Linked DNA regions of Homo sapiens. The protein of the gene in region 1 interacts with the protein of each later gene in a biochemical or structural test. Each region holds a gene or a part of one and is shown in the gene's direction. Other genes may lie near its edges.

Region 1 (3,500 bases):
TTCAAGCGATTCTCCTGCCTCAGCCTCCCGAGCAGCTGGGATTACAGGTGCCTGCTATGACGCCTGGCTAATTTTTGTATTTTTAGTAGAGACGGGGTTTCACCATCTTGGCCAGGCTGGTCTTGAACTCCTGACCTCAGGTGATCCGCCCGCCTCAGCCTCCCAAAGTGCTGGGATTACAGGCGTGAGCCACTGCGTCCAGCCTCTGCTGATCATTTTTTAATAGAAATGGAGTGACTTCACCAGAGTCACACAGCCAGTTTGTAGAAGTATTGGCACTGAAGTTTTGAATCTAAATTCTTTATCTTTGCTCCAATCCAGGGAAAGAAAGGAAGGATTCCCTGTTTCAGGGGTGGAGCATAGATAGGAATGACCACAGAATTTATTGCCTAATCAGGACACTCAAAATGCAGTGAAGGGAAGTGCTATTATTATTATTTATTTATTTATTTATTTATTTATTTATTTTTGAGATGGAGTCTCGCTGTGTCACCCAGGCTGGAGTGCAGTGGCGTGATCATGGCTCATTGCAAGCTCCGCCTCCCGGGTTCACGCCATTCTCCTGCCTCAATCTCCCAAGTAGCTGGGACTACAGGCGCCCGAAACCATGCCCAGCTAACTTTTTGGATTTTTAGTAGAGACGGGGTTTCACTGTGTTACCCAGGATGGTCTCGATTTCCTGACCTTGTGATCCGCCCGCCTCGGCCTGGGATTACAGGCGTGAGCCACCGTGCCCGTCGTATGATTATGATGATGATGATGATTATTATTAGAAATGGAATCTCACTATGTCACCCAGGCTACAGTGCAGTGGTGCAATCTCAGCTCACTGCAATCTCCACCTCTCGAGTTCAAGCGATTCTCCGGCCTCAGTATCCCAAGTAGTTGGGATTACAAGCTTGAGCCACCATGCCCGGCTAATTTTTGTGTCTTTAGTAGAGACGAGGTTTCACCATGTTGGCCAGGCTGGTCTCAAACCTGATCGCAAGTGATATGCCCACTTCAGCCTCCCAAAGTGCTGGGATTACACTTTGAATCCTAAGCGCCTGGCCAGAGAATGCTATTGTTAATTGTACCTGGATGATAAAGCTTTTCCTTTGAGTAACTCAAGTGAGAAATCCTGGCTCTTCCAGTCCTAGGGCTCTCTGTGACTGATCTGCCAGCTTGCTTTCTGCCTCCTTCTGGACTCCTCTCCATGAAAAAGGGAGAATCTGCCTCACTCTCAGCAGCGTCAACTGAAAATCTGACAAAACCCCCAACCCAGCTGTGTGAGGTGGCTCATGCCTGTAATTCCAGCACTTTGGGAGGCTAAGGAAGGAGGATCTCTTGAGCCCAGGAATTTGGGCCAGCCTGGGTAACATAGCAAAACCTTGTCTCTACAGAAACATCAAAAAATTAACGGGACTTGGTGGCACGTGTCTGTGGTCCCAGCTACTCAGGAGGCTGAAGTGGGAGGATTGCATGAGCCCAGGAGGTCAGGGCTGCAGTGAGCCATGATTGCACCACTGCACTCCAACCTGGGTGAGAGAGCAAGACCCCCATCTCAAAAAAAAAAAAAAAAAAAACCACCCTAACCCCTAAGCCCCAGTTGGGTGACCCCTATTTCTCAGGGGCCCCAAGCCCCCTTTGCACTTTTATCTTCCACATCTGGAAATAGATTCTTCCACATTTAGCTGAGAAATTCAACAGACACTGGTTGAATAAGTCATAGAAGCCAGATGTTCTGACCCAGAAATAACGAAGTTGTTATGGCAGCAGAGCTCATCTTTGATTATGAACAAAGGCAAAAAGCAAACAAACAAAGGAGGCCTGGCATGGTGGCTCACGCCTGTAATCCCAGCACTTTGGGAGACCAAGGCGGGCAGATTACCTGAGGTCAGAAGTTCGAGACCAGCCTGGCCAACATGGTGAAACCCCGTCTCTACTAAAAATACAAAAAATTAGCCGGGTGTGGTGGCGGGCGCCTGTAGTCCCAGCTACTCGGGAGGCTGAGGCAGGAGAATGGCGTGAACCCAGGAGGCAGAGCTTGCAGCGAGCCGAGATTGCACCACTGCACCCCAACCTGGGCAACAAAGCAAGACTCCATCTCAAAAAAAAAAAAAAAGAAAAAGCCAGGTGTGGTGGCTCACACCTGTAATCCCAGCACTTTGGGAGGCCGAGGCGGATGGATCACAAGGTCAGGAGTTCGAGACCAGCCTAACCGACGTGGTGAAACCCCGGCTCTACTAAATACAAAAATTAGCCAGGCATGGTGGCACGCAGCTATAATCCCAGCTACTCAGGAGGCTGAGGCAGAAGAATCGCTAGAACCCGGGAGGCAGAGGTTGCAGTGAGCTGAGATTGTGCCACTGCACTCCAACCTGGGTGACAGAGCGAGACTCTGTTTCAAAAAAAAAAAAAGAAAAAAAAAATGGCCAGGCACAGTGGCTTACCCCTGTAATCCCAGCATTTTGGGAGACCAAGGCAGGTGGATCATCTGAGGTCAGGAGTTTGAGACCAGCCTGGCCAATGTGGTGAAACCCTGTCTCTACTAAAAATACAAAAGTTAGCCAGGCTTGGTGGCAGGTGCCTGTAGTCCCAGCTATTTGGGAGGCTGAGGCAGGAGAAGCGCTTGAACCCGGGAGATGGAAATTGCAGTGAGCCCAGATTGCGCCATTGCACTCCAGCCTGGGCGACAGAGCAAGACTGTCTCAAAAAAACAACAACAAAAAAGCAGGAAGCAGACTTTTTAGCTAGTTCAGCTATACTAATTGTGTACATGTCTTTAGTCTTATCATTTATATATATATATATATATATATACACACAAACACACAGTGGAGGTATGTCTTGCACAGGGACTAGCTTGTGAAGTTAGCGCAGAGAGATAACATGGGACACAGTTGAGTTGCCTTGACATTGCTCAGAAGGTTAGGTACACACGTCATGTGTACAGCTGTGTCCTGTACTCATAGCTATGAGTTCCTGCTGTATTGGTGATTTGTGTCCCATGTATAATTCTAAAGAAAGATTATATTTAGAGATGAAATCATACACGTATGTCTCTACTTATAACACTGCAGCCAGATTTTTTTTTTTTTTTTTAAAGAGATAGGGTGTCACTATGTTGCCCAGACTGGACTTGAACTCCTGGGCTTAAGCAGTCCTCCCACCTCAGCTTCCTAAGTAGCTGGAACCACAGGTGCACATCACCATGCCTGGGCACTTCAGCAAATTTAAGATGATTCTCGACTGGGCATAGTGGCTCATGCCTGTAATCCCAGCACTTTGGGAGGCCAAGGCAGGCGGATCACAAGGTCAGGAGATCGAGACCATCTTGGCTAACACAGTGAAACCCCGTCTCTACTAAAAATAGAAAAAAAAATTAGCCGGGCGTGGTGGGGGGTGCCTGTAGTCCCAGCTGATTAGGAGGCTGAGGCACAAGAATGGCATGAACCCGGGAGGCGGAGCTTGCAGTGAGCCGAGATCGTGCCACTGCACTCTAGTCTGGGCAACAGAGT
Region 2 (3,500 bases), 9.7 Mb from region 1:
AATTTTGTATTTTTAGTAGAGACGGGGTTTTTCCATGTTGGTCAGGCTTGTCTTGAACTACTGACCTCAGGTGATCCGCCTACCTCGGCCTCCCAAAGTGCTGGGATTACAGGTGTGAGCCACCACGCCCAGCTACAGTGTCTTTCATTATACTGAAATTTCTCCTTTTGGCCAGGTGCGGTGGCTTATGCCTGTAATCTCAGCATTTGGGGAGGCCAAGGCGGGTGAATCATCTGAGGTCAGGAGCTTGAGACCAGCCTGGCCAACAAGGTGTCTCTACTAAAAATACTAAAAATACAAAAATTAGCCGGGCGTGGTGGTAGGCGTCTGTAATCCCAGCTGCTCATGAGGCTGAGGCAGGAGAATCGCCCAACCCAGGAGGCAGAGGTTGCAGTGAGCCGAGATTGCACCACTGTACTCCAGGCTGCGCAATGAAGCGAGACTCCATCTCAGAAAAAAAAAAGAGGAGTTGTGATCTTTCAAAAAAAGACCCTGTCTTTTTTTTTTTTTTTTTTTTTTTTTTTTTTTGAGAAGGAGTCTTGCTCTGTTGCCCAGGCTAGAGTACAGTGGCGTGATCTGGGCTCACTGCAACCTCTGCCTCCCAGATCCAAACGATTCTCCTGCCTCAGCCTCCTGAGTAGCTGGGACTACAGGTGCCCACCACCATGCCAAGCTAATTTTTGTTTTGTTTTGTTTTGTTTTGTTTTTGAGATGGAGTCTTGCTCTATCCCCCAGGTTGGAGTGGTGCAGTGGCACGATCTCGGCTCACTGCAACCTCTGCCTCCCAGGTTCAAGCAATTCTCCTGCCTCAGGCCCAGGCTAGAGTACAGTGGCGTGATCTGGGCTCACTGCAACCTCTGCCTCCCAGATCCAAACGATTCTCCCGCCTCAGCCTCCTGAGTAGCTGGGACTACAGGTGCCCACCACCATGCCAAGCTAATTTTTGTTTTGTTTTGTTTTGTTTTTGAGATGGAGTCTTGCTCTATCCCCCAGGCTGGAGTGCAGTGGCACGATCTCAGCTCACTGCAACCTCTGCCTCCCAGGTTCAAGCAATTCTCCTGCCTCAGGCTCCCAAGTAGCTGGGACTACAGGTGCATGCCACCGTGCCCGGCTAATTTTTTGTATTTTAGTAGAGACCGGGTTTCACTGTGTTGCCCAGGCTGGTCTCGAACTCCTGAGCTCAGACAATCCACCCGCCTCGGCCTCCCAAAGCGCTACAATTACAGGCGTGAGCCACCGCGCCTGGCCTAATTTTTGTATTTTTAGTAGAGACGGGGTTTCACCATCTTGGCCAGGCTGGTCTCGAACTCCTGACCTCAGGTGATCCGCCCTCCTCAGCCTCCCAAAGTGGTGGGATTACAGGCATGAGCCACTGCCCCTGGCCTAATTTTTGTTTTTAGTAGAGATGGGGTTTCACCATGTTGGGCAGGCTGGTCTCGAACTCCTGACCTCAGGTGATCCGCCTTCCTCCGCCTCCCAAAATGGTGGGATTACAGGCATGAGCCACTGCCCCTGGCCTAATTTTTGTTTTTAGTAGAGATGGGGTTTCACCATGTTGGGCAGGCTGGTCTCGAACTCCTGACCTCAGGTGATCCGCCCTCCTCAGCCTCCCAAAGTGGTGGGATTACAGGCATGAGCCACTGCCCCCGGCCTTTTTTTTTTTTTTTTTTAAGTGAGGTTTGTTGAGATATAATTTACATCCAATAAAATAAACTCTTTTCAGGACATTTGTGTTGACAAATGACAGGGCCAGCTAACCATAATGAAGATAAACCCTATTTCCATCACTCAAAACAGCTCCCTTGTAGTCTGTCCCCCCACCGCCGGCCCTTGAGACTGCCAATCTGCCCTCTGCCCTGTAGCTCTGGAAACTCGGCTCTGTGGACCCACACAGTGCCTGGGCTTTTGAGTCTGTGCCTTGGCCTTAGCCTGGATGAATCCCACCAGCACCCTGCTGTGTGCGTCCATGGTGCCTCCTTTCTCCCATTGCTCGAAGACCCCATCGGGTCTCTTCTTGATTTCAGACCCTGGCCGGCTCCTGTGGGAAGTTTGCCCCCTTTGAAATTAAAGAGCACATGGTCCTGGCCCCTCGGCGTCGGACCGCTTTCCATCCAGACCTCTGCAGTCAGCTGGACCAGCTCCTCCAGCAGCAGAGCGGCGAGTTCTCCTTCTTGAAAGACCTCAAAGGCCGGCAGCCCCTGAGGTCCGGACCCACGCACGTTTCCACCCGGAATGCAGATATTTTTAACAGGTCAGAGCCTGAGGAGGTCGGCCTTCACCCACTAGTGATGCTGGAGGCCAGCATCCTGAACCCTGGGGTCCCCGGGGTGGGAGCTCTGGGTCCTTCTGTTGCTTGCTTCCTAGTGCCCTCGGGCCCTGGGCTTCGGTGCTGGCTCAGGCCTCTCTCCACCTGGCCTTCCTGTAAGCTCCTGAAGTCTTCCTCTCCCTGTCTTCCCAGCTCCTCGTGGAGGAATCTTATTTCCCTGCTGGTCTCCAGTGAAGGATACCCCCCAACACCTCGCTCTTGCAAATCTCATTCCACAGAACCTCCCTTGCTAAAAATGCTCTGGGGCTGCACCTGGGCAGCTGTCCTCCCTCTCACCCTGCAGGCTGCACCCTCCTCCATCTGTCCCTTCAGTCCATGTTCCTGACCTTTCTTTGGGGACAGGCAGTGCTGCTTTTTAACAAATGCCCATCTTTCTAGAATTGTTAGGCCAGCTTCACAGGGAGGTTCCTGGGAGGTTTGTGAGCAGGTCTGTAAGGCAGCGTGATCCTGAGCCTGGGGTTTTCCTTCTCAGTGATGTCGTCATCGTGGAGCGTGGGAAGGGCGACGGTGTTCCCGAGAGGAGGAAGTTTGGCAGGATGAAGCTCCTGCAGTTCTGTGAGAACCACCGGCCTGCCTACTGGGGTACCTGGAATAAGAAGACGGCACTCATCCGCGCGCGAGACCCCTGGGCCCAGGACACGGTGAGCTAGCCCCAGAGTGCCTCCGTCCCCGTACCTCCTCACTGTGCCCCTTTCCTCCAGCCCCAAAGACAGTTGTGAGTCCCATGTGTTTCTTTTCTCAGAAGCTCCTGGACTATGAGGTGGACAGTGATGAGGAGTGGGAAGAAGAGGAGCCTGGGGAGTCCCTGTCCCACAGTGAGGGGGTAAGGATGTGCCCCAGCTGTCTTCACTCACAGACGGCTTGTGTTTGAGTCTCTGTCCCACAGTGAGGGGCTAAGGATGCAGCCCAGCTGTGTTCACTCACTGACAGCTGGTGTTTGACCTGCTGTGTGGTCTGAAACCTGAACGCACCTCAACATCCAGACTTCCAGCTTCTCTCGAAAAATCTCATCTGGTGACACTCGCCCACGTGGCTGCTGGGGATGGGATCCCGTCCGCATCTGCACCGTGGCCCCACAGCCCCCTCTTGCCTCCTGCGGGCCTGCTGCACACCATTTCCTCCTGACTGCCCAGCTGCTGTGACCTAGTGGGCTTTCTGCCGATGCTCACCGTGT
Region 3 (3,500 bases), on another chromosome or scaffold:
ACATCTTCACTCTCCTGCTGCGCCTGCACCGGTGAGTGGAACAAGGCTGAGGCTTGATGAAAGGATTCGGGACTCGGGACATTGGTCAAGCCTGCTATTAATAAAGAGGGTCGAGCAGTCTGCACTGTGCGTGTGGGGCCCTGGCCATAACTGAGCCCTGGGAGAGGCACGATTGGCTCCCCTGAGGTACAGTGGGAAATCATCTGCACTTTCATTGGCCTCATGCTGTTCCTGAGGTGGCCCCGCTGAGAGACAGTCCCCATGCAGGAGGCGGGGCTGGGGGGATCCTGCTTGCCAACATGGCCCCAGTCCCTTTTAGTTCTGCTTTTGCAAGCCAGTTTCCACTGATGGCGTTTGCCTCCATTCCCTTCCCCTTTCTGCTCAAACCCGTGTACTGCCCATTGATGTTTCAGGAGCTTGGTGTTGTCGCAGGAGAGTGAGGGGAAGATGTGTTTCCTGAACAAGCTGCTGCTACTTGCTGTCCTGGGCTGGCTTTTCCAGGTGGGCAGAGTGAGGGTCCAGATTGGAGAGAGGTTCTACAGCTGAAGATGGGGAGTGGGCAAATGTCTGAGTGCGAATGAGGCAAGGGCTGGAAGACGAAGGTTCAGGAAAGGCCTGGGGATTCCCATCATCTCAGAGGTGGCTGCTTTGAAGCTGGCGCCTACACCCTGGGACCGTGCAGGAGGTGGGGTGGGTTGGGTGGGGGTCTCTGAAGTTGACCTGAATTGTGACTGTCTTGCCAGATTCCCACAGTCCCTGAGGACTTGTTCTTTCTGGAAGAGGGTCCCTCATATGCCTTTGAGGTGGACACAGTAGCCCCAGAGCATGGCTTGGTGAGTGCTGGGGTTCCGCCAGAGCCATGGGAAACTCAGGAATAAAGGAAGTGGGCTGCCTGGGGAGGCCCAGCCAGGGGCAGATGTAACCCTTGTAAAGGCCCTGCCAACTGCCTGCTTTCTGGGTGCGCTGGGGGAGGGGCAGTCTGCTGACACCAACCTTTTCTCCCCAGGACAATGCGCCTGTGGTGGACCAGCAGCTGCTCTACACCTGCTGCCCCTACATCGGTGAGCACCGGTCTTCCCTGGACGGTCCTTGGTCTGTCCCTCCATGAGTACCCAAAAGGCACCCCCTTGGCCCAGCTCCCTTGGATATTGCTCCGTTCATAGTCATTCCTGGGTATCTGAGCCTCTTGACTCCACAAGTAAAGTCCATGATACTTAGGGAGGGGAGAGGGTTCTGGAACTGAGAACTTGGACTTCACTGATACAGGAGAGCTCCGGAAACTGCTCGCTTCGTGGGTGTCAGGCAGTAGTGGACGGAGTGGGGGCTTCATGAGGAAAATCACCCCCACCACTACCACCAGCCTGGGAGCCCAGCCTTCCCAGACCAGCCAGGGGCTGCAGGTAAGGGCAGGGCGGAGACAGCCGTGGGGAAAATGAGGGGGGGTTGGGGGCGGGGACAGGGAGGCTGGAGGAAGCCTTGCTGCCTCTCCCTCCTCCCCCCAGGCACAGCTCGCCCAGGCCTTTTTCCACAACCAGCCGCCCTCCTTGCGCCGGACCGTAGAGTTCGTGGCAGAAAGAATTGGATCAAACTGTGTCAAACATATCAAGTAAGAGTGGGTTAAGGATCCTGGTCTCATCGCCCTACCATTTTTTCCCCTTTTTCCTCAGTTGCTAAACTGAGAAGGTCAGCCAGAGGGTGGGTGTGGGGCTGAAATGGCTGACACATTTTGAAGCAAATTTCTGACCAAATTCCCATAAATTTTCAGCCTCTTTCCGATTAACCCTCCAACCATCCCCAACCTTGCTGTCCCTGCTGCAGGGCTACACTGGTGGCAGATCTGGTGCGCCAGGCAGAGTCACTTCTCCAAGAGCAGCTGGTGACACAGGGAGAGGAAGGGGGAGACCCAGCCCAGCTGTTGGAGATCTTGTGTTCCCAGCTGTGCCCTCACGGGGCCCAGGCATTGGCCCTGGGGCGGGAGTAAGCAGCGCTGGTCCATTTGATCCACTCTCCTCTTGGCTTTCTCTGTCCTTTCTTTCCTCCTTCACACTTACTCTTTTTTCCCTTTCTTCTCTTCATGCCTCCTTTTTTCTTCTCCCTGCGCCCATTCTCTATAAGCCCTGCACTGGCTGTAGGCCTTCTGTGGCACAAAAGCCAAACCTAGGTTTGGGAGCGTGTGTGATGCTGTGGGGCTGGCAGTTGGGCTTGTCTTTTCTCTGGCACCTGGGGTGGGGCGGGAGGGCAAACGGTGCCTCCTTCCAAGGTACAGCCTCCCAGGTCAGGGGCTTGGTGCACTCGGGGCATTTACTTCTGCAGCCAGGCTGAAATACCCAGAGATCACTGACCCCATCTGTCCCCTTTTAGGTTCTGTCAAAGGAAGAGCCCTGGGGCTGTGCGGGCGCTGCTTCCAGAGGAGACCCCGGCAGCCGTACGTGTGAGGGAGGCCTGCAGCTAGCAGGCCAGGCAGTTGTGGGGAGGTGCACGGAGTAGTCTGAGGCTGCGGGAGGGTGTGTGGGGGCGGGGTCAGTGCTCGACTCTGGCATCCTTTGTTGCACCCAGCCCTCCCCTAGCCCCTGACTCTGTAGTTCTGTTTCGCAGGTTCTGAGCAGTGCAGAGAACATTGCTGTGGGGCTTGCAACAGAGAAAGCCTGTGCTTGGCTGTCAGCCAACATCACAGGTAAGGTCCTGGATGGGGGAGTGGCTGAATCAAGTGTTTAAAAAGTGGACTGGCAGAGAGTCAGAGGCATCTTGTGGGCGATGGGACTGAGAGCCAGTAGGAAACAGCAAAAGGCATGGGTTAGCATGGTGAACCTGTGCAGGGCCCTCCCGTGATTCCTTTCCCATTCTCCCTCTGCCCCACAGCACTGATCAGGAGGGAGGTGAAAGCAGCAGTGAGTCGCACACTTCGAGCCCAGGGTCCTGAACCTGCTGCCCGGGGGGAGCGGAGGGGCTGCTCCCGCGCCTGTGAGCACCATGCTCCCCTCCCCTCCCACCTCATCTCCGAGATAAAAGTACACGGCTACCCTACTCCCTTTGGCTTCCCTGCTCCCACCCCCCTGCTCTGTTCCTGGTTTTTCCTTTCTCACATCAGCTCCAGGATTTTTATGTAGAAGCTGTCTGTGCTGTCCAGCTAGTCCCCGTTTCACTCATTACTGAATGGGGGTTAGGTAGGGCAGAGCTGAATTGAATGGTTTTCCTAATTGTCACTCTGACTTTTTAATCATCCAAAAGGGGAAAAGGGCAGCTAGGACATTTTTGACTAAATGCTTATTATGCAGATGGTGATGAGAGTGCGGTGGTGAATGGCTTGATAGCAAATGAGTCTCTAGGAGGCAGTCGCCCCAGTATTTGGAGACAATTTCAGAAATGTTCTATGTGGGAGGTGATGCTTGTTTAGTTACAGGCAGTAAGAATAAACCATCAGTTCTCCTAACTTTATTTTAAAACTCAAAGACTCTCTAGAGCAGGAGTCAAGAAACAGCCCATGGACTGAAGCGAGCCAG

What was found. Proteins that work in one complex are often made in the same cells at the same time.
Region 2: the proteins of ASF1B (region 1) and CHAF1A form a complex in vitro, tested with the Homo sapiens proteins (one study listed by BioGRID).
Region 3: the proteins of ASF1B (region 1) and CDAN1 form a complex in vitro, tested with the Homo sapiens proteins (one study listed by BioGRID).

Annotation. Positions count from the first base shown.
Region 1 is NC_000019.10:14,130,090-14,133,589, reverse strand, and holds part of ASF1B (histone chaperone ASF1B), read left to right. Parts: intron 1-3,500. UniProt on the Homo sapiens protein: Histone chaperone that facilitates histone deposition and histone exchange and removal during nucleosome assembly and disassembly. Cooperates with chromatin assembly factor 1 (CAF-1) to promote replication-dependent chromatin assembly.
Region 2 is NC_000019.10:4,426,640-4,430,139, forward strand, and holds part of CHAF1A (chromatin assembly factor 1 subunit A), read left to right. Parts: intron 1-2,024; coding exon 2,025-2,251; intron 2,252-2,798; coding exon 2,799-2,967; intron 2,968-3,068; coding exon 3,069-3,149; intron 3,150-3,500. UniProt on the Homo sapiens protein: Acts as a component of the histone chaperone complex chromatin assembly factor 1 (CAF-1), which assembles histone octamers onto DNA during replication and repair.
Region 3 is NC_000015.10:42,727,129-42,730,628, reverse strand, and holds part of CDAN1 (codanin-1), read left to right. Parts: coding exon 1-31; intron 32-413; coding exon 414-501; intron 502-743; coding exon 744-833; intron 834-1,006; coding exon 1,007-1,061; intron 1,062-1,266; coding exon 1,267-1,400; intron 1,401-1,502; coding exon 1,503-1,606; intron 1,607-1,818; coding exon 1,819-1,977; intron 1,978-2,361; coding exon 2,362-2,425; intron 2,426-2,595; coding exon 2,596-2,674; intron 2,675-2,859; coding exon 2,860-3,008; intron 3,009-3,500. UniProt on the Homo sapiens protein: May act as a negative regulator of ASF1 in chromatin assembly.